3 separate regions of the Homo sapiens genome follow, and regions 1 and 2 are each reported to be linked to region 3. The links are microRNA targets in miRTarBase. Many come from high-throughput screens and were not tested one by one. Region 3 holds a microRNA gene; each other region holds the end of a gene's coding sequence.

Region 1 (7,949 bases), not on the chromosome of region 3:
AGTATTTTTTCAGGTGGTTATCGTTATTTTGTTTCACATTTTCCATGTAAAAGAAAATATTAAACAGGTCCCTGACAAAAGTGTAGAATACCAGATAAAATTGTCCGTCGTTGACCTTCGTTTTCTTAACAGTCTTGGAACAAATAGTTCTGTATTTGTTACCATGCTAATGAAGGTTTTATAGAGTAGCTGTTGAGCAGACATCAGCAGTTTTGTATTAGGATTGTTGTGTGCTTGCTTGGTCGTTGTGCAAATTTATCGTCTGCAGCAATATTCCATCCCTTTCCAAGAGTCAAGGAGGGAAGTTGTTATTTCTAACTTTCAATGACAAGATGTGTCAAATTCTTGTGACAAACTGATAAATGGATAATATAATGATGCCAGGCAGTTTTTTAGTGCTTAACATTTGGGCTGGCAGTCTGTTCGGTGTGAGAGTTTCTGCTGCCTTCCAAATATATTTTAAGTGTAAATCAAATAATACAGACGAGTTACGAGCTGAACATTTTCCCAGGCCCCCTCACTCCTTCCGCGTTCCCGAGCTGTTCTGTTCTGCCAGGAGGCAGGGCTCTTCTTTAGAAGGCAGGCCCTTTGAAGGTTTGCATGAAACTCCCTTTCTCAAAGGAGGCGGAAGAGCAATACCACATAAACGCTCACCGCTGACCTGGAGAATTGGCCACTTCCCTTTTTCTTCCCTGCCGCTGCCCCAGGCTGGCTGACACGGGTTAGAAGATGAAGCAAGATCAAGGGCTGGCTGTCACCGACAGTCTGTGCTCTTGCTGGATAATGATACAAAGGAAACCCTGTGGCTTGGGAGGGTAGGGAAGTCCCTCCTAGAGATACCTCTCATTTCCTTTTGCGTTGAGCTCTTAGACGAGGTATTGGCGAGGCAAAGTCCAGCTTCTAGTTAGTAATAAGCCTGGCTTATTTTTCACATTTTTAAGGGTCATAAAAGCAGTCCGTCTGCACTGGGACAGCAGTAACTATCTCTGACCTTTTCTGTCTCCGCGTCTGCAGGTTCTAGCACAGACGGCAACAGCGCCGGACATTCGGGGAACAACATCCTCGGTTCCGAAGTGGCCTTATTTGCAGGGATTGCTTCAGGATGCATCATCTTCATCGTCATCATCATCACGCTGGTGGTCCTCTTGCTGAAGTACCGGAGGAGACACAGGAAGCACTCGCCGCAGCACACGACCACGCTGTCGCTCAGCACACTGGCCACACCCAAGCGCAGCGGCAACAACAACGGCTCAGAGCCCAGTGACATTATCATCCCGCTAAGGACTGCGGACAGCGTCTTCTGCCCTCACTACGAGAAGGTCAGCGGGGACTACGGGCACCCGGTGTACATCGTCCAGGAGATGCCCCCGCAGAGCCCGGCGAACATTTACTACAAGGTCTGAGAGGGACCCTGGTGGTACCTGTGCTTTCCCAGAGGACACCTAATGTCCCGATGCCTCCCTTGAGGGTTTGAGAGCCCGCGTGCTGGAGAATTGACTGAAGCACAGCACCGGGGGAGAGGGACACTCCTCCTCGGAAGAGCCCGTCGCGCTGGACAGCTTACCTAGTCTTGTAGCATTCGGCCTTGGTGAACACACACGCTCCCTGGAAGCTGGAAGACTGTGCAGAAGACGCCCATTCGGACTGCTGTGCCGCGTCCCACGTCTCCTCCTCGAAGCCATGTGCTGCGGTCACTCAGGCCTCTGCAGAAGCCAAGGGAAGACAGTGGTTTGTGGACGAGAGGGCTGTGAGCATCCTGGCAGGTGCCCCAGGATGCCACGCCTGGAAGGGCCGGCTTCTGCCTGGGGTGCATTTCCCCCGCAGTGCATACCGGACTTGTCACACGGACCTCGGGCTAGTTAAGGTGTGCAAAGATCTCTAGAGTTTAGTCCTTACTGTCTCACTCGTTCTGTTACCCAGGGCTCTGCAGCACCTCACCTGAGACCTCCACTCCACATCTGCATCACTCATGGAACACTCATGTCTGGAGTCCCCTCCTCCAGCCGCTGGCAACAACAGCTTCAGTCCATGGGTAATCCGTTCATAGAAATTGTGTTTGCTAACAAGGTGCCCTTTAGCCAGATGCTAGGCTGTCTGCGAAGAAGGCTAGGAGTTCATAGAAGGGAGTGGGGCTGGGGAAAGGGCTGGCTGCAATTGCAGCTCACTGCTGCTGCCTCTGAAACAGAAAGTTGGAAAGGAAAAAAGAAAAAAGCAATTAGGTAGCACAGCACTTTGGTTTTGCTGAGATCGAAGAGGCCAGTAGGAGACACGACAGCACACACAGTGGATTCCAGTGCATGGGGAGGCACTCGCTGTTATCAAATAGCGATGTGCAGGAAGAAAAGCCCCTCTTCATTCCGGGGAACAAAGACGGGTATTGTTGGGAAAGGAACAGGCTTGGAGGGAAGGGAGAAAGTAGGCCGCTGATGATATATTCGGGCAGGACTGTTGTGGTACTGGCAATAAGATACACAGCTCCGAGCTGTAGGAGAGTCGGTCTGCTTTGGATGATTTTTTAAGCAGACTCAGCTGCTATACTTATCACATTTTATTAAACACAGGGAAAGCATTTAGGAGAATAGCAGAGAGCCAAATCTGACCTAAAAGTTGAAAAGCCAAAGGTCAAACAGGCTGTAATTCCATCATCATCGTTGTTATTAAAGAATCCTTATCTATAAAAGGTAGGTCAGATCCCCCTCCCCCCAGGTTCCTCCTTCCCCTCCCGATTGAGCCTTACGACACTTTGGTTTATGCGGTGCTGTCCGGGTGCCAGGGCTGCAGGGTCGGTACTGATGGAGGCTGCAGCGCCCGGTGCTCTGTGTCAAGGTGAAGCACATACGGCAGACCTCTTAGAGTCCTTAAGACGGAAGTAAATTATGATGTCCAGGGGGAGAAGGAAGATAGGACGTATTTATAATAGGTATATAGAACACAAGGGATATAAAATGAAAGATTTTTACTAATATATATTTTAAGGTTGCACACAGTACACACCAGAAGATGTGAAATTCATTTGTGGCAATTAAGTGGTCCCAATGCTCAGCGCTTAAAAAAACAAATTGGACAGCTACTTCTGGGAAAAACAACATCATTCCAAAAAGAACAATAATGAGAGCAAATGCAAAAATAACCAAGTCCTCCGAAGGCATCTCACGGAACCGTAGACTAGGAAGTACGAGCCCCACAGAGCAGGAAGCCGATGTGACTGCATCATATATTTAACAATGACAAGATGTTCCGGCGTTTATTTCTGCGTTGGGTTTTCCCTTGCCTTATGGGCTGAAGTGTTCTCTAGAATCCAGCAGGTCACACTGGGGGCTTCAGGTGACGATTTAGCTGTGGCTCCCTCCTCCTGTCCTCCCCCGCACCCCCTCCCTTCTGGGAAACAAGAAGAGTAAACAGGAAACCTACTTTTTATGTGCTATGCAAAATAGACATCTTTAACATAGTCCTGTTACTATGGTAACACTTTGCTTTCTGAATTGGAAGGGAAAAAAAATGTAGCGACAGCATTTTAAGGTTCTCAGACCTCCAGTGAGTACCTGCAAAAATGAGTTGTCACAGAAATTATGATCCTCTATTTCCTGAACCTGGAAATGATGTTGGTCCAAAGTGCGTGTGTGTATGTGTGAGTGGGTGCGTGGTATACATGTGTACATATATGTATAATATATATCTACAATATATATTATATATATCTATATCATATTTCTGTGGAGGGTTGCCATGGTAACCAGCCACAGTACATATGTAATTCTTTCCATCACCCCAACCTCTCCTTTCTGTGCATTCATGCAAGAGTTTCTTGTAAGCCATCAGAAGTTACTTTTAGGATGGGGGAGAGGGGCGAGAAGGGGAAAAATGGGAAATAGTCTGATTTTAATGAAATCAAATGTATGTATCATCAGTTGGCTACGTTTTGGTTCTATGCTAAACTGTGAAAAATCAGATGAATTGATAAAAGAGTTCCCTGCAACCAATTGAAAAGTGTTCTGTGCGTCTGTTTTGTGTCTGGTGCAGAATATGACAATCTACCAACTGTCCCTTTGTTTGAAGTTGGTTTAGCTTTGGAAAGTTACTGTAAATGCCTTGCTTGTATGATCGTCCCTGGTCACCCGACTTTGGAATTTGCACCATCATGTTTCAGTGAAGATGCTGTAAATAGGTTCAGATTTTACTGTCTATGGATTTGGGGTGTTACAGTAGCCTTATTCACCTTTTTAATAAAAATACACATGAAAACAAGAAAGAAATGGCTTTTCTTACCCAGATTGTGTACATAGAGCAATGTTGGTTTTTTATAAAGTCTAAGCAAGATGTTTTGTATAAAATCTGAATTTTGCAATGTATTTAGCTACAGCTTGTTTAACGGCAGTGTCATTCCCCTTTGCACTGTAATGAGGAAAAAATGGTATAAAAGGTTGCCAAATTGCTGCATATTTGTGCCGTAATTATGTACCATGAATATTTATTTAAAATTTCGTTGTCCAATTTGTAAGTAACACAGTATTATGCCTGAGTTATAAATATTTTTTTCTTTCTTTGTTTTATTTTAATAGCCTGTCATAGGTTTTAAATCTGCTTTAGTTTCACATTGCAGTTAGCCCCAGAAAATGAAATCCGTGAAGTCACATTCCACATCTGTTTCAAACTGAATTTGTTCTTAAAAAAATAAAATATTTTTTTCCTATGGAAAAAGTGCCTTCAAAGTACTTTTCTTCTTTTCTTTTCATTTTTCTTTCTTTTTTGTTTGTTATTTTAATTTGCCTTCCTTTACTCTATTTCCCCCAAAATTACAGTTAATCCAGAGACTTCTGTCTATGGACACTGTGTGCCCACTTTTCAAATCGGGATGTGCACATCACACAAATATTAATTTTGCTAAGAGCCGTGAGCTCGTTATTCCCCATAAAACCACAAACTCTCATTTCAAAAATAATATGCAATTGTATAAAATCCTAATAATCCTCAACAGAAAATCTCTCTAGTGGCACCTGAATTGCACAGTCAGAATAGTTACCTACAAAGTTAGCTGTCTCAGGAAAAAGAGGGAAATGTACTCTTATCTTACACTTAATTCCAGATCGATCTAGTGTCCATAGAAGCAAAGCAGCGGTCTATCGCTTCATTTTTCTTAACAGAATAATCCTAGGGAGAAGGAAAAAGTCAAATGTTTTTGTAAAAACTTAACATTGATGAGAGCACATTTTGAGATACTGGTTGAAGGCAAGCCAGAGGCCAGCTGTGAGTTTAAAACACACTTTCAGTGGTCATCTTCCTGGGGAAGGTAACTATGTACCCTGAGGGGTGTGATTGTTTTTCAGGCCTCTTGTAGTCCTGGGTATTAAGACTGATCACTATACTTCCTGGGTAGCTTTTTAAACAACCAAGAGTCCCCACCCATGGCAGAGAACTTCACACCCTTGAGATCTGAGTGCTAACATCTTTACATTATCTCAGGTTAATCCCTGCCATAAGAGTGAGACATTTTAGGTAGGGAGAATAGGAAAAGGCCCCTGGAGTCAGGAAGCAAGCCAGAAGAGTTCCCAGGTCTGACTGACTTGCCCAGGACCACACCCCAGTCAGTGGAAGAAACCATATGTTTCAAAAGTCCATAGGTGATGAAGAAAGGCTGGTTTGGACACAGGGATCTACACAGCTTAGCACAGTACTTGTACTAGAGAAATGTTTGTTAAATAAATGCCTCCCTTCATCAGCAACAACAACAATCCCCGGAGGCCCAGGGTTTTCGTGGATGGTAGAATCGTAGTTTCATCTGTTCCAGGATTTTCTCCTGCTGCACCCACCTGCCTTCAGTTGCAGATCCAAGTTGATGGATGCAATTTTATGGCCAAGCCACTAAGCTGAACCCTCGACCGTGTGCACCAAGGTCATTTCTAGTTAGTTTGGGCAAAAGAAAAGAACCAAAGTGAAATCATGCATTTTCAACCTTTACTTTGTGGTACCTATTACAACATAAATTACCGAATACACAATGTCATGGTTTGGACCCTGTTTTTAAACCACGTTTTCTGAGTAAGCCAAGCTCAGCTAAGAAACAAGATTTGTCCACTTGTTCTTTTCACCTGGGAAGAAGGAACACACGCAGAAGCTCCTTGCAGAGGGCGTATAACCAGATGCCCTTTGTTCTGTCTCAAAGGTGAGCCCAGCCTGCTCTGAGCACGTTACTTCTCTGCACAGGCGAGCGTCCCTCAGCCAGCAGCCAGCTCTCTTTCTTATCAACTCCCTTTTTGGCAAAGCAGATGGCCATTCAAACCCTGGGATAAAGGTTCGCAATGGAAATGAGAAAAAATAAAGTATTCCTTTCTGGGTAACTGCTGTCCAGCTTACTGTCAGTCTCTGAACCCAACCCAGAGAAGAATTAGCAAGAGAAAAAGTAAACTCCAGAGTAGTAAAACTCACTTTCCTAATGTAGGTTAAAAAAAAAAAAGAAAGAAAAAGAAAAAGGACCATTACCCTACTTTTTGGTTGGGTAGCAAATAGGTCTCAGGTGGCTCAGGAGACACAGTAGCTACTGCAGCACCAAGGACACTAGCCTGGATGTGCTACTGCTTTGGTTTTTACTTTGGATGGATTTTTGAATTACGTTTGTGATATTTACACTATACACTTACTTGAAGGCAAATTTTCAGTGTTGTCATGGAAAAGAGTATTTCCTACTCCGATTCATTATTCCAGGTAGAGAATCATTCATCAGTGATTTGAGGGGGGGGTACTAAAATATTGCATTATTTGTAACAAAATATAGCAAACCAGGTAGGTTAATCCATTTTTAGATATGTCCCAAAAGCTAACGATACATGCAGCTTAAGATTTTTATACTTTGATAACTTGATTAGTGGAATCTCTTTAAAACAGTGTTCATATGAAGTCAACCATATCTTTAAAAACAACCAACCCCCTCAAGAATTCTCCAGGTATACACCAGGTACACAGGCATACGGCACAAGGAAAATAATACTAATTATAGCAGCACAGTTTCTGGCCAGTTGTAGACAGTTAACAAAGGTGTTAAATCATGAAAGGGGCACCTGGTTTCTGGCTGTATTTCTGCTACTGACTCATGCTGTGACCTTCAGCAGATCCTTTTATGTTCTGTGCCTCAGAGCCTCACCTGTAAAGTGAGAGGGATGGATTCTAAGATACCAAAGGTCGCTTTTGCCTTTTTGCAGGATTCGCAGCAAAAAGCCATCACCATTTTCAGCTGTACAAAAGTATCTCCATGCAAGCTTCTCCGTGTCCTAGTGTGCTGCAGACACAGCTCTGAAGTCTGCGGAGGTGGTGCCCAGTCGGCCCCACCTCTTAGCTGCGCATGCCCATCCACCCACTGCCTCCAGCAAGAACCCACTGCCTCCAGCAAGAACCCGCTGCCCAGGGCCCGGGGTCCAGGACTCTGCGGCTCTTCACCCCTCCCTAGAATCAAAATCCAAAAAGACTTCAGAACCAGCGATGTATATGTACGGATTGAGCTGGTGTTGCCAGCCCTTCCCTCTAATTGTTAAGTGGAATCATTTATCTCTATTTAAAAACATTTTCAGGCCACTGCAGGCGGGGTCCGAGCACATTCGCTACACTCTTCTACGTGACTGTCTGATAAAGACCCACCACGAGCCAGGCAACGTGTCGGGTGGTCACGGTGTCCCCTTCCACCAGTTAACTTAGCCCAACTTGACTTTGTCTTCCTTGTAGACTCAAGATTAATTTAACTTCCTGTTGAATATTGTTCATGCTGGTATCTGGAACACATCCTTATCCCTCCTTTATTATTTACACCTCTAATTCTGTAGTCTGTGACAGAAAACTGTAGAATTGAGAAACATCTTTTAGTTGATAATAGAGCTATTATTTCTTAACTAAGTGCCATTCATGCTTAATAAAGAGATTACAGGGGTGTGTGTATGTGTGTGTGTATGTGTGTGTATGTGTGT
Region 2 (7,949 bases), not on the chromosome of region 3:
GTAACTTGAAAAACCAGCTTGCCCTCCCAAGATCTGAGAGTGTTAGCAAACCACTATCTTGCCAGTATTCAGATTGACTTGCTCTTTGTAGAAGTAGGGGCTTTGGTGACAATAGGCACAACTGCAAATAATTCAGAGATTATAAAATTCCCAAGACTTTGTCATCAGAGATGTTTGAAATAACTAAAATCTAAATTAGGCTGTTAAAAAATGTCTGTGTAATTGTCAATGGCATTGAACAAGAAAAGGCAGCATTTTTTTTCTCTCAGTTATTTATAACCTATAAGAAAAAGTAGCTGTATAGCACTATGTTTTTTTTTAACAATTTGATTACATGATGAAGATTTTCTGCTGTCACAATCACAGCATTACAACAGCATGATTTAAATACTATTTGCAAAACCAAAAGCCAAGTAGCTGCTTATATTACAAACATTTTTTTGGTTTCCATAACCATTTAGTCAAATAAAATATTATATGGAAATTGACTATTTAAAATCTAATTGCTAGGTCATGTAGGGAACACAGAGGTGTAGAAGATTGATCCTGCCCTCAAATGTATAAACCATTAAGTAGTCAAATGGCTACAGTGAAAAACAGTATTTTATAGTAGGTATAGATAATTGGCACAGATAAGCTCAGAAAAGAATGATCAGTTCTTGCTGGAGTAATTCTGGGGAAATGGCTTTCATGGAGAAAAGGAAAAGAGGAAGTGTAGTATCAGTCTATGTTGTCTATTGCTAATGTGGAATGGTGTTTTCTGCTTCTACGCCTTACTGATTCCAGTTTTTATATTTAGAAAACAAATTAAGTGAAGCTTCTGGAGGTAGGGCTGAAAATGGTGAAAGAAGTGACTTGGAAGAGGACAACGAGAGGGAGGGAACGGAAAATGGAGCCATTGATGCTGTTCCTGTTGATGAAAATCTTTTCACTGGAGAGGATTTGGATGAACTAGAAGAAGAATTAAATACACTTGATTTAGAAGAATGACACCAAACACATCGCTGAAAAAATTAAGTCAGCTCAGCACGAGTTGAAATTGACTACATTAATTTCTTTCCACCTAGAATCAACAGGATGTTTATTTCCTATGCTGATTCTGGAGGAGTTAACCTCCTGCAAAAAAGGCATCTTGTCCCTACATCTTCTCTTCTGACTTTGGCTACATCTCATAGTAAGTTCAGAGTAGTTCATGATAAATTGAAAATATAATGGTCATTGCAGAAAATGATTGATGTTGTAACTGTCCACCCAAGTAAGAAGTGTATCTGCCTTTCCATCTTTTGGTTTTCATTTGGGCATGTGCTATTACCAGAAACAACAAACTTATATTTAAAATACCCTTCATTTGACACAGTTTTTAATGAGTGATTTAATTTCCTCTGTATTTGTATGTTTAGAAGACTGCCTAAAACATGAGCACTGTACTTCATAAAGGAAACTGCGTATGCAGATTCAGTATTGTGTATCTTTGGACAATTAGATGGACATTTAAAATGGAACTTCTTTTATCTGACAGGATCAGCTACAATGCCCTGTGTTAAATTGTTTAAAAGTTTCCCTTTTCTTTTTTGCCAATAAAGTTGTAAATAAAGACCATCATACATTAAAATCCAAATATGGGCCTTTTTTTAAGTTTTTCTATGAAAAATTTAACATTTCTAGCTTGAGAATTTTAAATACCTGTTATAATATCACATAGGCATGTTTTCTTAATATTTACTACAGAAGCATCTAGAGTACTTGACAGTACTACAATGAGTTTAATAACACAAATACTAAGCTTCCAAAAAGAGACTTTAGGAGATGTTATATAAAAGAGTAACTTCTGAATTGATACAACATCAACCAAATTAAATATCACCTGCAGTTGAATCAAGTAATGCTTAAGAATTGTTTGTTGAGATTCATGGTGTTAAAATAGTACATACTACTGTAAGTATAAACAAATTCACCAGAAAACTTTGGGCTGAGGGTCTTTGGCACTAAGAGCCCCTGAAAAATTAGGGTGATAATACATTTAAAATGGACACAATTTGCTAATGACATATTTAGTACTAGCTACACCTTTTTTATTGTTATGTTTTGTATTTTCAAATAATATGTTGCTTTTGTTATTTGCGAATATAAATGGATTTTAAGGCAACTAAGATAACAGCACTAAAATGTCAGGTGAGCTGGACCCTAATCTCATTTCTGCCTCCGATAAATTATATGATTTTTAAATCTCTGAATCTTAGTTTCTTTATTTGCGTATTAAGGTTAAGACTCAATGATCTGGCCGGGCATGGTGGCTCACACCTGTAATCCCAGCACTTTGGGAGGCCAAGGCAGGCGGATCACTTGAGGTCAGGAGTTCAAGACCAGCCTGGCCAACATGGCAAAACCCCATCTCTACTAAAAATACAAAAATTATCCGGGCATGGTGGTGCATGCCTGTAATCCCAGCTACTCAAGAGGCTGAGGCAAGGGAATCGCCTGAACCCAGGAGGCAGAGGTTGCAGTGAGCCAAGATCATGCCACTGCACTCCAGCCTGGGCGACAGAGCAAGACTCTATCTCAAAAAAAAAAAAAAAAGACTGAATGATCACTAACGTACTTCTAAGTTGTAAAGCCTAAGAAATTTATGATTGCAAATCTTGTCAAATGATAACATCAAAGTTGATAAAGAAATTGACTTCCTAGCTGTTTAGTACTAGTACTATACAACTGACAGTTTTTAAATATAGAACATCAGGAGCCAAGTTTATTTCCAGCTACAATGAAAGTGTACTTAAATACTTCCTATATATACTTTATATATTTTTTTAAAAAGCTTGAGTTTTAAAGTTTATTCATGAAAGATTTGTTCCATTTTTTTGTGAAAGTTTAAATGGTACTTACTGCATTATTTAATAATGAAACATTTTCAGAATAGTCTAAAGAGCTTAAACCTTTTTTCTATTTTGAAGTCATCTAAAACATTTTCTAAGAATTTATCTTATAAATAAAAGTTAGAATTCATTTACTTCAGACCAAGCTTTTCCAACCTGAGGCCCGTGTGCCACATACCACCCAGAATGACTTTGAATGTGGCCCAACACAAATTTGTAAACTTAATTAAAACATGAGATATTTTTTTTTTGCAATTTTTTTTTTAATCTCAGCTATCGCTAGTGTTAGTATATTTTATGTGTGGCCCAAGACAGTTCTTCCAGTGTGGCCCAGGGAAGTCAAAAGATTGGACACCCTTGCTTTCGACCTTAAGTTTGGGGGCTTTTTTTTTTATCCTGTATATAAAGTAGGGCCATATAAACAAAAGGATGCTGAAAGACTTTAGGTGTGTTTAAAACAGTATTATCTTACAGCAAATAATGTGATCTCAAAAGTCAAGGTGTTTTTTAGTAAGTGTATAGATATAAAGCAAAATGGTTCAATGTGGAGGTAATTTTTTATACCTGCAAGTCTTTAATTACTGGGTGGCCTTCCTCTACCTTGCCCTGAAATTTCTTCCATTATTAAGACAATACGTGCACAGAGAATGCAAAAGTATTTTAATCTGAGACAATCAAAGTACAAAAATAAATCTGCTTCTAAAATTATAGTACATTTCAGAGGTTTAAAGAAATAATTTTTGTATTCTCAGTATAGTTACTCAGTATTGGTACAGTTAATCTGAAATTGGCTCTACTTTTCCAAACCCATTTATATATAAATAACCATTACAGCCTATAGTGATCCCATGTTTGCCAGAATCTTTCTAAATTTAAAATACAGTCATGTGTCACGTAACGAAGTTTCAGTTGCCTCTGAACTACATATACAAAGGGGTCCCATAAGATTATAGTACCTGTATTTTTACCTTACCTTTTCTATGTTTAGATGCACAAATACCATTGTGTCATAATTGCCTGCAGTATTCAGTACAGTAACATGCTGTACAGGTTTGCAGCCTAGGAAAATAGGTTATTTCATATATTTCATATAGTGGTAGATGGTAGGCTTTACCATCTAGGTTTATGTAACTATGATGTTCACACAACTGAAATCACCTAACAATGTGTTTCTCAGAACATATCCCTTAGTTAAGCGGTGCATGACTGAAGTTACATTGTGAATTTTACCTTATTTTTGCACAGATGGTATATCAGATGCTGTAAGCCCATCATACTGATATAAATGGACTGATATAAATTGTATAATGGTACAATATATTTCTAATGTGTATTATTCAGCGCTGACCGTTAAGTGATTCAGAATGTGATAGCAGTGAGATTACAGGATCAGATCATTGAGAAAGCATTGCATCTATCAGGTTTTAACACATAAAGTGGACAAAGGGAACTTACGGCAGACGTTCATACAGATAATTAGTAGAATTATTATATGAGTTCTCTTCTTGTTCTGGGTAGTTAACTTTGTATAAAGAACTTTCAGAATCACAGAAGAGATTTCTACCTAAGTATAAGACTGTGATGCTGATACATATATATATCCACATACAATATTATGTTAATGCTTCTAGGTACTTAGCACACCATTCATATCATATGAACTCAGGTATATGTTGTAATAAATTCGTTTCAAGGCATACCAGATGAGAGGATAAACTCCCAAAATCTTGTGTTTTGGGTTTTTGTCTCTATTTTTAAGCATATATCTTACTGATGATAGGTGTTCTCTGAGAATAAAGATAACACTTTACTTTTCAATTAGTAGAAATTACGAGAAGCTGAACTCTAACTAGAATCTGACAACATCTGCAAAATTTTATAGTACTTTAGAAACAAACCCAAATGAAATAATAGTACAAAATGTATTTTCACATTTTCTCCTTTTAATGTTGTATTTTTTGATTGTTACTCTTTGTTAATGTCGAAAGAAAAGGAGATTCGTTTTCATTAATTTCATTAATATTGTGTGCTTTGCCACATGTACAGCACTTGTATTGGGCACTATAGATTGCATGAACTATATGACAGTTTAAGACATGGTCTCAGCCTGATTTGAGTATACATGTTAGAATGAGAAAATCACAACTATATAAGGCAGAACTAGTAAGTTCCTGACCATTAACAAAGATGCCTTTTCAATTAGACTTTCCAGTATTTTACATTCAGTTTCATTGAGTGAGTTTTTTTTTTAATAAAGATTTTCTTTGTGAAGATAATATGATGGACATTTTTCAGACAAAGGTGGTTATTTTGTACTCAGTCCCCAGAGGCATACATTTCTGTTACAGCTGATCTGGTTTTCAAACAGATACATGTAAAATTAACTAGTCCTTATGGGACTTAAGCATCAGGACTTAGTTTCCTGATTCCTATGTAGTTAGCCTTATATTATAAACCAAAAGACAATGAAATACTAACTACTTTTTTTTGCCAATTAATCTCTAGGGTGTTTTCAAAGGACCGTATATCAGCTTCATTCCAAATGTGTTTCATTTCACCTGTGACTCCTTTAAACTATATTTTTATCTAAGTCTTAGGAAACTGTATATTTCAGTGACAAAGATCATCAATATGACTTAAGAATTTTTTTATGTTACCATATTTAACTGATGATTACGTATTTTGAATTACCTTGTTTTTACAGCATGTATGGAAATATATCAAAGAATTTATAATTAAAAGTATTTAAAACCTCTCAAGTTAGAAGTATAGTATATAATATAGTAATTATATGGATCACTTCATGATTGTGCATTATTGTATATATTGGACATATTTCACTTAAAAGAGAAATGTAATGCATGAGAAGTAGAATCCAATGTGTTAGGAATCTTCATTCCTGAATTTTTACACGGTGCTGAATAGGTACTGAAAGTAAAAATTTTAGTAACTAAATCTGCCAGGTGCAATCACATGTGCTTGTAGTTCCAGGTATTCTGGATTCAAAGGCGGGAGGATCACTTGGTCCCAGGAGTTTGAGCCTGCAGTGCACTGTGATTGCATCTGTGACCAGCCACTGCACTCCAACCTGGGCACATAGTTGAGACCTTATCTCTTTAAAAAAAAGCAGGGAAGGGGATGATTAAATCTTCTTTGATAAATTGATTTTGAGAATATTTCATTGAAAAACTAGATAATTTGTGGAGATACATTGTCAGTTGTATACAGACTAATTAACTACATTGGTGATTCACTCCATGGACCATTTTCTTCAGATATGTTTGGAATTATTATCTATTCCTACACTTATTGCACTAATGACTCACCTTAGAAGGAAAAGAAAAATTTTAATTTACTTAAAAAAAATTTTTTTTGATTGAATAGATAATTGTGTATATTTGTGGTTAATTATTATTTTACACTCCAGACCTATTTCTACACCTGTAGGGAAGAAACTTAATCACTGATATCGTCAGCCTGTCAGATACCACTGATATCTTCAGTCTAGTTTTAAGAAAAACTAGGACTAAGAAGAAGTATATAATCAAGTTCAAGCTAATCATGGCCATTTTTAAATTACTTGGTCTTTTTTAATACTTTTTCCCAGAGCAACCTTCTAAATGGAAGGGCAAAGCCTCAACTATCTAAAATGCAGCTTTTAAGGACTCTTAGATGTATGATATGCCTTATGTACAGGAGATTCCATCTATACCTTGACACCCACACCACTCCCACCCCTGTTCTCTCTTCCAAGAAGGTTTTTGGCAGCAAATAGTTCTCTTTAATTATTATATTTAAATATTTGTATATATTTAATTCACATTAGGGATAACAACTAAGAATTATTTAATTGGCAGGTTTATTAGGTAGTTGTTGATTGATGACATGTATAACAATCCAAATGGTATGATAGGTGAAGCCAATGCAGTGGCACATGCCTGTAATCCCAGCACTTTGGGATTGCTTGAGCCCAAGAGTTCGAGGTTGCAGTGAGCCATGATTGCATCACTGCACTCCAGCCTGGGTGACAGTGTGAGACTCCATCTCAAAAAAAAAGAAAAAAAAAAAATTTGGCCGGGCGCCCTGGCTCACGCCTGTAATCCCAGCACTTTGGGAGGCCGAGGCGGGTGGATCATGAGGTCAGGAGATCGAGACCATCCTGGCTAACAAGGTGAAACCCCGTCTCTACTAAAAATACAAAAAATTAGCCGGGCGCGGTGGCGGGCGCCTGTAGTCCCAGCTACTCGGGAGGCTGAGGCAGGAGAATGGCGTGAACCCAGGAAGTGGAGCTTGCAGTGAGCCGAGATTGCGCCACTGCAGTCCGCAGTCCGGCCTGGGCGACAGAGCGAGACTCCGTCTCAAAAAAAAAAAAAAAAAAAAAAAATTTGTATAAAGGGTGAAGGTTTACCCTTTATTAAAAAAACGAAAGCAGAATCAATATTAGAAGAGACAGAAGTATTAACACATATGAGTTGTCTATAAGAAGATGAGAAAAAGTGAACTACCACCTCATAATGTTTAAAAGGCTGTGGGGGGATTCACAGTAACATAGTTCTATAGCATGCTAATGATTATATACCTCTGTGTTCATATACAGCATGCTACTGTACAAAAATAATACTATCTAAAAATACAGGAATGCAAGGAACAAGTGAATATCATTTAAAGAATCAGTTCTCTTGATAATCCATTTGCACAAAATCAAAGGTTTCTTCTGGGCAAGTACATAAATGTACTTTTCACTCTTTACATGTGAGTGTCATGTGCATGTAAAAGAAAGGGAGAATCTCAAAGACTTCTATAGCTAGAGATAACAAAATATTCTTGATATTGAATAATCATGTTGAATGCCTTTTAAATCACTCTGAATGCATTAATGTAAAATATAACACTTTTAAAAGGTAGCACAGTTCCCTTCCACACAGAGTTAGCTGACCTCCCTATTTCAAAATTGCGGAATATGACTCACCAGAGAGGCATTTGGCAATTAATTTCAATCAACTATCGCTAATAAGGGATAAACTACAATAAAATCCTAAAAATTAAGAGCCAAATATTCCTTGTTCAGATGTCATC
Region 3 (7,949 bases):
TTCCACTTGCCAAGGCCTCTTCCCTAAAAGCAGTGGACAAACAATGGCGCTGGGACCTTCTACCCAGGAACGGGAACAGGCAGCCTCTGGGGCCATCAGTCAGTGGCAGGAATGGGCCAAGCTAAAACCAACCAAATATCTCCCATCCAGACGGCACTCTCCTGACCACAGAACCCACTGCACACACCCAGCAGCCCTGCACACACCCAGACCCTTTGAGGGCTGGCTGCGATCTGATTCTCGGAGTGGCATTTCCCCAGACCGCCAGTCACTTACCCAAGGGCAGCACACTTCCGTGTTCCCACTTCCCCTGATGAGGCCAGGTCCTTTCCCAAGGGGTGTTGAAGTGTCCTGAAGGCATCTCAAGCCTTTAGCAAGGGTGCAGGCTGCCTGCCCCCAACCCTGCATCCCCATGCCTCCCCTGCAGCCTGGAAGGGACTCTTTGCCCTCAAGCCTCCTGGGCAGTATGGGCCCACCATGAGCAGGCTCATTTTCCGAACATGCCCCGGCTGGGGGAGCAGCTGACTTGGCAGGGCCCCCAAAATGACACCGCTGCCGCCGCCACCGCCACCACCCCTCCCATCCTGCCTGCCCTTTAGGGTGGAGTGAGATGGGATGATGGCTTAAGATGCAAACAGATCCAGGCCATCCCCAGGGCCAAGTCCAGGACCTCGGTGGCACCCAGACCGGACCGGCAGCCTGGGCTTGGGCGCTGGGGAGGACACCTCTGCCCGAAAGGAGAGGCTTGGTGGGGAAGGTTTGGCCTCTGAGCAGAGGCACGACTCTGGAAGCCTCTCCGAGGGTGGGCGGGCCTGCTTTGGGACATCAGCAGCACTGGGCTCTCTTGGTCCCATGGAGCCCCCAAGCCTGGGACTTGCTGAGGAGGCCACTCCCACCCTCCTCCAGTGTGTATGTGGGGGGTCCTGTCCTCCTCCCCACCCAGCTGTGGCCGCACCAGCCGGGCTCCATCGGCAGCCTGGGGCTGCAGGCGATCAATGGTGCCGGATCGCATTTCGACCCGCCTGAGGCTGGGCAGAGGCTGGGATAATGGCCTGGAATGAATAAGCAAATGGAGTGGTGGGGGAGGCGGGGAGTCTGGAAAACCCACTCATACAGCCCTCCAGGGAGCTGCCCCTCCTGCCGCTCCACGCACCCAGACAGGCCAAGCAAGGTGCCCGACATGGGGGACGCCCTAAACCCGGGCATCTGGGAGCCGCTGCTTTTGACAAACAGAAAAACAAAGCAAAAAGTGCTTCTCAGTGACCCTCCCGCTCCAGCAAGAAAGGCCTTCGCTGCAGTGGGACAGCGTTCCTGCCTGACACTGGACACCATTGGACAGATCATGGGCAGAACCTTTTGCCCATCTCACAGACCTTCTGGAAGCCACACAAGGGAGGATCCAGGACCTGTTCTGCAGGGTGGGGAGGTGAAGAGGGGCCCTCTCCTATCCTAAGTGCCCCCAGCCTGGGTGGTAGGAAATTGTGTCTTTAGGGAGGAGGGCCAGCTGTGGTGGCCCCCACTCTCTGGGACAGTCACTGTTGTGGGTGAACTCACCACCCAGGTCTGGCCCGGAACTAGGTAAATTAGGAGATCTAGAAACTAGCTTTGGCCTGAGGTCCTCCCCTGGAGCGCTGGAGCAGGGCCCCAGAGCAGCCGGGCCTGAAGCCTGGTGGAGGCACGCCCCCACACCAGTGCCTGCACTCGGGGCTCAGCAAAGGCGCCCACCTGGGCAGGTGTGAGGAGGTGGAGCCCAGCTGCAGACCACCCAGGGGCTGAGGGCAGCTTCTGTCATCCGGCCTTCCCCGCTAGGCAGGAAGGAGCAGAACCCTGGCCAGACACTCCAGAGGCTCCAGGGAAAAGCTCTAGAACCGGTCACTGCCAGGGGCCTTCCACCCCCCCTTGCTGGGTCTCTGTGCCCACCCCACCTCCAGGGCTCATTCTCACTCAGGCCGGGAAATCCCTTCTTTCCTATCCCATGGGACCTGCAGCAGGACGCCCTAAGGAAGCACCCGGGGCGGAGGACTGGAGCACAGAGACAGGGTGCGGCACAGGCCAGCCAGGTTCCGAGGGGCAGAGGGAGAGCTGGGGCCATCAGAAGAGAGACCTAGCTACAGGGACACCTCACCAGGGCAGAAGTCCCCTTCTATCCTGAAATAAACAAGCCCCTCCTTTTTTCTGCAGGGGCTTGGAGAGCTTCTGTAGAGAAACACGGGCACCACACCCCAGAGGGAATTTATTGGGGGCTCCTCGCGGTTTGGTGATAGCTAACTGACAAGAAAAAAAAGGCCCAACCCACCCAAGGCAGTCCCCAGGGCACCCAGGCAGGCAGCACTGGTCACCATGTTCCTGCTGTGCAGTCAACTGGACCCGTCATCCTCCAGCTGCCAGCTTCAACCACACACATCCCCCACCCGGGCACTCCCTGGCTCAGACACCTAAAATGACTCCCACTGATCTGGGCTAAGTCCACCAACCCTTGCCTGAGGCTCCCTGGGGAGAAGCAGCCCCATCAGGGGCTGGCCCAGTGACCTGGGGCATGATAGCTCCCAGCTGGTCCCAAGTCGGCCACTGGTCTCCTGCTTGATTGCTGACCACCAGATTTCACATGGGTCCAGCCTGGCTGGCCAGGCTCTCCCCAGCTTTGACAGACTAGGTCCAGGCCTCCCAGCCTCAGTCTCTGCCATCTGGGGCATCCTTGGGAGCCCAGGCCTGTAGATTCAGAGCTGAGACACCTCCAGGCCCTGGGTGCCTCCATGGAAGGTGTGGCTGGTGGCGGAAGAGCCACAGTGACCCAGCTCTACCACTCACCAACCTCTTCAGCCAAGCCTTTCCTCTCAAAGCCTCAGGTTCCCCATCTATGAGATAACTATTTTAAAAAATTACAAGCCCCACAGGGCTGAGGTGGGAACTGTTGGGATTATATATGTAATGTCACCTGACACCCAGATGGAGAGCATAGGCCAGTTAGTCATAGCCCAGATCCAGGGACCCAGGAAGCTACATTACCAGTGTGTGGTGTGTGAAGGGGAACATTGGCCTCTGCTCCAGAACCTTCTAGGGGCAGGCCTGAAAATGCCCTCCAACTCCGAGCCCCACTAAGTATCCTCCTCTTGGAGCTGTTCGGAGATGACCCACTCCACAGCAGGCTACAGCTCCAGAGACGGTAGCCCCCCTGGAAACACCCAGGCTGACCTCAAGGGCAGCCCACCTGCCTGGAGCTGCCCCCTTCACAACCTGCAGCAGAAAAGACCAGGCCCTGTGCTGCCAGCCAAGGTCTCACCCCAAGCGTGTGCTGGGAGCCTGGCTGGGCCTTTCCAACCCACGGCACCATTCAGGATGGCCCTACAGATGGTTTCAGACTCCCCCACCTCTGCCCTGGGCGGCCCCATCTGCTGGCCCAGCTCAGATTGCTGGGCTCCCAGCTCTACCGTGGCCCCAGGCAGTGTAAGGCGATCTGGCTGCCCACCAGCGCTGGGCCCTCACACAGCAGCTGAGCCAGATGGGCTGGGGAGGCGGTGAGGAGGCCTTGAGGAGGAGCAGGCTGGGGCCCTGACACAAGGATGCAGGGGAGGCGGACGCAGCTGCGGGTCCTGCTTTTCCCATATTGGCACTGCACATGATTGCTCAGAGCGGAGAGACACAAGCAAAAATGTGCTAGTGCCAAAATCGGCCAAGCAGATGGCACTGGTGCGGGCTCTCTGGGGACACACTGGACGAGGGGCCTTGCATCCCTGCACCCTTGGAAGCAGCCTGTTTCCGACGTCTAGGAGCACTCAAGGCAGAAGTGGGTAAGGTGCTCCGGAGGCCCTCGTGGATCTGTCTCTGCTCTGTTTATGGCCCTTCGGTAATTCACTGACTGAGACTGTTCACAGTGAATTCTACCAGTGCCATACACAGAACAGGAGTCACACTCTGCGGCCTGCCGACCCTGCGGAGAGACCAGCGGCCCACGATGCCCGTTCCCTGCTCCTAGCCTGCCCACTCCCTTGGGGGCCCCCCAGCAGGCCCTCAGCAGCGGCTGCTACGGTCTCTACCCCCCACCCCATCCCACCTCTTCACAAGATCCACATGCCCCATCAGCCCAAGATGACCTTCAAGGAGACAGGGACAGTGCGGGAGAGGAGCTGACCTTCTGGCCTTGCAGAGGAGAAGACCACACCAAGGTGTCTCCTATCTCCACCTGAAGGCCCACATCCCTCCACATCACCCAGACTGCGCCTCCAGGCTGGGGAGGGAGTGGGTCAGGACCATCCATCTCCTTGCCAGAGTAACTCTGGCTCGGAGAGGCAAGCAGCTGGCCAGAGCCTCCTCTCTACCCAACCTGCCACAGGGGCAGTGACCAGTGGGACATCCAAGATGCCTCTCGTAGCCTCTGAGCCCAGACACCAGCAGCCCAGGCTCCTAGGCACTTTGGTCTCCATTATCCTCCACCCCCCAGCCTGCCCTGTGGCAGAAACAGAGCCCCAGGAACAAACCGAATCTGCTGCTCACCCCCACTCCCATCCCAAACCAGACCAGATTGGGCCAGACTGTGAACCGCCCAGGCTGGGCATCTCTGCTGCCGGCCTAGGATCAAGGCAGGAAAAGGCCAGGAAAGGAGGGCAGAAGAGAAGTCCTGCAGCCACCCAGGTGGCTTGGAGGGAGCCGGAGGCACGGATGCACTCTAGCAAGGGAGTGGCTCCTGGCTGGCTCTGGAGTGACTGCGGAGGAAAGCGGAGGCTCAGGAGCGAGGGAGGGGCTGGGAAGGTTGCATCAGTGGTTGCCAGAGCAGCTGCCTAGAGAGAAGTTGCTGTGGAGGCCCTGCCTCTGGTGTCACAGGCCCTGGGGAAGGACGGGAAGAAGGGAGAGGGTGGGAGGGAGGGTCTCTGGGGAGCTGGCACCCAGGGCAGGCAAGCTGGGGCCTCCGCAGAGTGGCCACTAGAGTCTCAGCCTACTCCAGGTCAGCGGTGGCCCAGAAGGCAGGGTGGCTAGAAAATATCCTGGAAGGGTCAGAGCAGGTGCCCTGGCCCAGAAACTATGCAGACCTCTTGGCGATGTTACCCCCAGGAACTACCTCCCGTGGACCTCAGAGCTCCATCTGGGTACCTTGGCCAAAGCCATCCGCTCTCCCCTAGACACTGCTTAATGCTCCACCCTTCCTGCTCCCGAGGACTCTTTGTCCTGCTCCCACACACCCCCACTACAGGGCTCTGCCCTTCTAGCTGGTCTATCTCCCCAGAGGACAATCCAGCTTGATGAGGTGGTGATCTCAGGAAGTCACTCCTCAGCCTTCTGCCTCAGTTTCCCTTACTACAATTTTCTGAACTCTACTAAGGAAGAGAGACCAGACTTCCCAGCCTTGGGTGGGGAGGGGAAGGGGTGATGGCAGGGTGTTAGCAAAGAGTATGGGGTGGGTAGTTATGAACATTGCTTAGGGTGTAGCCATAAGCATCACCCAAGGAGCCTGTTGAAATGTAGATTCTTGAGCCTGCCTGGAAATCTGCATTTTAATAGCACCCTGACAGCTCAGCATGGGGTGGGGGTGGGGGTGGGAAGATCTATTTTGAGAAATCTTTCCCAAGAAGCCTCACCCTGGGATAATTAAACAGAATGCAGAATTCTTCTTTCTTCTGGCTGGGCGCAGTGGCTCACACCTGTAATCCCAGCGCACTTTGGGAGACGGGAGGATCGCCTGAGGTTAGAAGCTCGAGACCAGCCTGGTTAGCATGGTGAAACCCCCGTCTCTACTAAAAATACAAAAATTAGCCAGGCGTGGTAGCAGGCGCCCGAAGCTGAGGCAGGAGAATCGCTTGAACCCGGGAGGTGGAGGTTGCAGTGAGCAGAGATCGCACCACTGCACTCCAGCCTGGGCAACAACAGAGCGAGATTCTGTCTCAACAACAACAAAAAAAAAAAAAAAAAAAAAAAGAATTCTTCATTCTTCTTTTGGGGACAGCCAAGGATGGGGAGAGGCAGGTGTTAGGGAAGGGGAACACGCAGCACCTTGCAACCAAGGAGCCACAGAGGCCTTAGAGCTGGAGAACAGATGGAGCCAGGGATTCTGCTCTCCCCAGCCCAGGAAGGAATAAAAGGGACCCCAGGTAGAGGAGAGAGCCCTGTAACAAAGCAGCCAAACACGTACGCTCCTTCAAATTGTGGCATCTCTGTCGAGCTCCTTGGTCTGTTTTCCTCATCTTTGTAACTGACATAGGATGGAATACAGGGAGCAGCTCGCAAAGCCAAATCCCTCTCCACTTCCAGTTCTAGTCGGCTGGGCCAGGTTCCTCCCCTGCGCCTGCCTCACCCCTCCTAACCCAAATGCGACAGGAAGCCCAAGTGCCGCAGTGCCTGGGGGGTGCCACGCCCGCTGGGGCCTCTCCATCCTGGTGGAGGGAGGCTGGGGCCTGGGCCCTAGGGAAGCAAGGTCTCCCAGCTCTCTCGAAAAGCGGGTAAGAGGAGCTCTCCGACATCAGCAGCAGAATCCCCACTCGGAATCTCAAAAGGGAAAACAGAGGCCTATGGCTTGGCGCAGGTCAGGATAGCAGCCTCTTCTGCCCTCCCTGCAGGACACAGCCCTGACCTTGAGATCAAAGGCACAGAAATCCGCTTCTGGAGTGGGAAGATGAAGACAAGGTCTCCCACACCCGCTGGGCGTCAGCGCCTGGCAATGGAAGAGGACCAAAAGAGATGCAACTTGCAGGCCAGGCTGGGCAGCCAGGGACTCACAGGGTGTGTGGGGGTCCTACACATCCTAGGAGGTCTCCACAAAGCGCCCCCTCCCACCTTCGGTCGCTCTCAGCCCCACCCTCCTGAACTCTACTTGGGCCTTCTTAAAACTCGAGTCCCCTTTCCCCTAGGGGTGTCCCTTCCTGGGCACTGGTGCCCAATGCAAAGGGCAGGCCCCCAACCCCTTCCAGTGTTAGAGGTGAGTGTTGCAGGACTCTGGGCTATGGGTACTCCGGGGTCCTTAGACAGCACATAGCCTACCGCTCGACTCCTGGCTCTCCTCTCCACCTCTACACAACGAATCTGGAGTCCAGGGTCCCAGCCGCGCCACCCACAACCGGTCTGGTCCTGATCCCTCCAGTCTCTATCAAATGCCCCTGAGGTCCCAGGGGCTAGAGGCTGCTGGGGCCCTTGAACGGGCATGCCCTGGACGCTGCGCCTGTCATCCTGTGTCCCCATGAGGTGCTGGGAGAGGGGCCCAGAGCTCCTTTCCCCGAAGCCCAGGCCGCCACCGACCCATTAAATAAATACTCAGGTGTCTGGGGTGCGGAGCTCACTCCAAGAGCCACTGGGCCCCGGTAGGAGAAAAAGAATAAACGAAATCCTCACAAGTGAGGCCGGCATCCTAGAATTTTCTCTTCTTTGCGTAAGGCCGACTCCAGAGGTCCCGCTAACTCCCCCGCAGGAGCATGAAGGGGCGGCCTTGAGCGGTAAAGAAACGAGCAGTGGTGGAGGCTGCCGCTCCGAGCCCAGGTCCGAACCGAGAGCCGCGCGGGGAATGTGGGGGTCGAGGCTGAGAGCTGGGCTTGGGGCAGGTTCCTTTGCGTTCGCTCAGGCCACGATGAGGCCACTAGGACAGATTTCTCCGAAGGCTCGGCCTCGGATCAGAGATCCGCCGACTCGGTGCCCATCGGTCGGGCTCACTGGGTGACAGGTAGAGGGTGATGCGCACCCGTAGAGCTGAGTGACCCGGCCCGAGAATCCGCCACCTGGCTCGCAGGATTTTCGCCCTCAGGAGCTTTGCGAAGACGGGCGCAAACCTGGGAGGCGCCGCCGCACCTTGCCTGTGGGGGTGGGGAGGTCGATTACGGCACCGCCCGCCCTCGGCCCTAATCGCTCAGAGCCGGCCTCAGTGCCCCTGCCCCCGGCGGGTATTACTGTACACGGTGTCCGGGAGCCCGGGTTGGAAGAGCAAACGAATGGCTCAGCCTGGAGGACACCGTGGAATCGGGCGACCCCTGACC

Evidence for each region. The annotated mature microRNA hsa-miR-96-5p reads UUUGGCACUAGCACAUUUUUGCU and lies in region 3 at 3,643-3,665, opposite strand. An mRNA with a match to its seed (bases 2 to 7 or 8) in the 3' UTR can be bound and repressed. Matches are read on the target gene's strand: a 7mer-m8 pairs with bases 2 to 8, a 7mer-A1 pairs with bases 2 to 7 and ends in A, and an 8mer does both.
Region 1: miRTarBase lists EFNB2 as a target of hsa-miR-96-5p. Seed matches in the 3' UTR shown: 7mer-A1 at 4,423-4,429.
Region 2: miRTarBase lists ZC3H15 as a target of hsa-miR-96-5p. The part of its 3' UTR that is shown has no 7-base or 8-base seed match.

What each region holds. Positions count from the first base shown.
Region 1 is chr13:106,486,494-106,494,442 of GRCh38, reverse strand. EFNB2 (ephrin B2) reads left to right here. Exons shown (of 5, transcript NM_004093.4): 5 at 1,015-4,698. The coding sequence ends at 1,403. It overlaps LOC124903247 (a long non-coding RNA gene), which reads right to left and starts at 5,998. Exons shown (of 2, transcript XR_007063940.1): 1 at 5,808-5,998; 2 at 4,643-5,148. RefSeq lists enhancers at 116-1,315, 1,463-1,963.
Region 2 is chr2:186,507,744-186,515,692 of GRCh38, forward strand. It overlaps ZC3H15 (zinc finger CCCH-type containing 15), which reads left to right. Exons shown (of 10, transcript NM_018471.3): 10 at 800-1,618. The coding sequence ends at 990. Among named protein-coding and RNA genes, the nearest start is that of ZC3H15, 25 kb to the left of the region's middle.
Region 3 is chr7:129,771,097-129,779,045 of GRCh38, forward strand. MIR96 (microRNA 96) reads right to left here and starts at 3,673; the gene lies at 3,596-3,673. It overlaps MIR183 (microRNA 183), which reads right to left and starts at 3,918; the gene lies at 3,809-3,918. RefSeq lists enhancers at 1-410, 2,137-2,998, 5,842-6,688.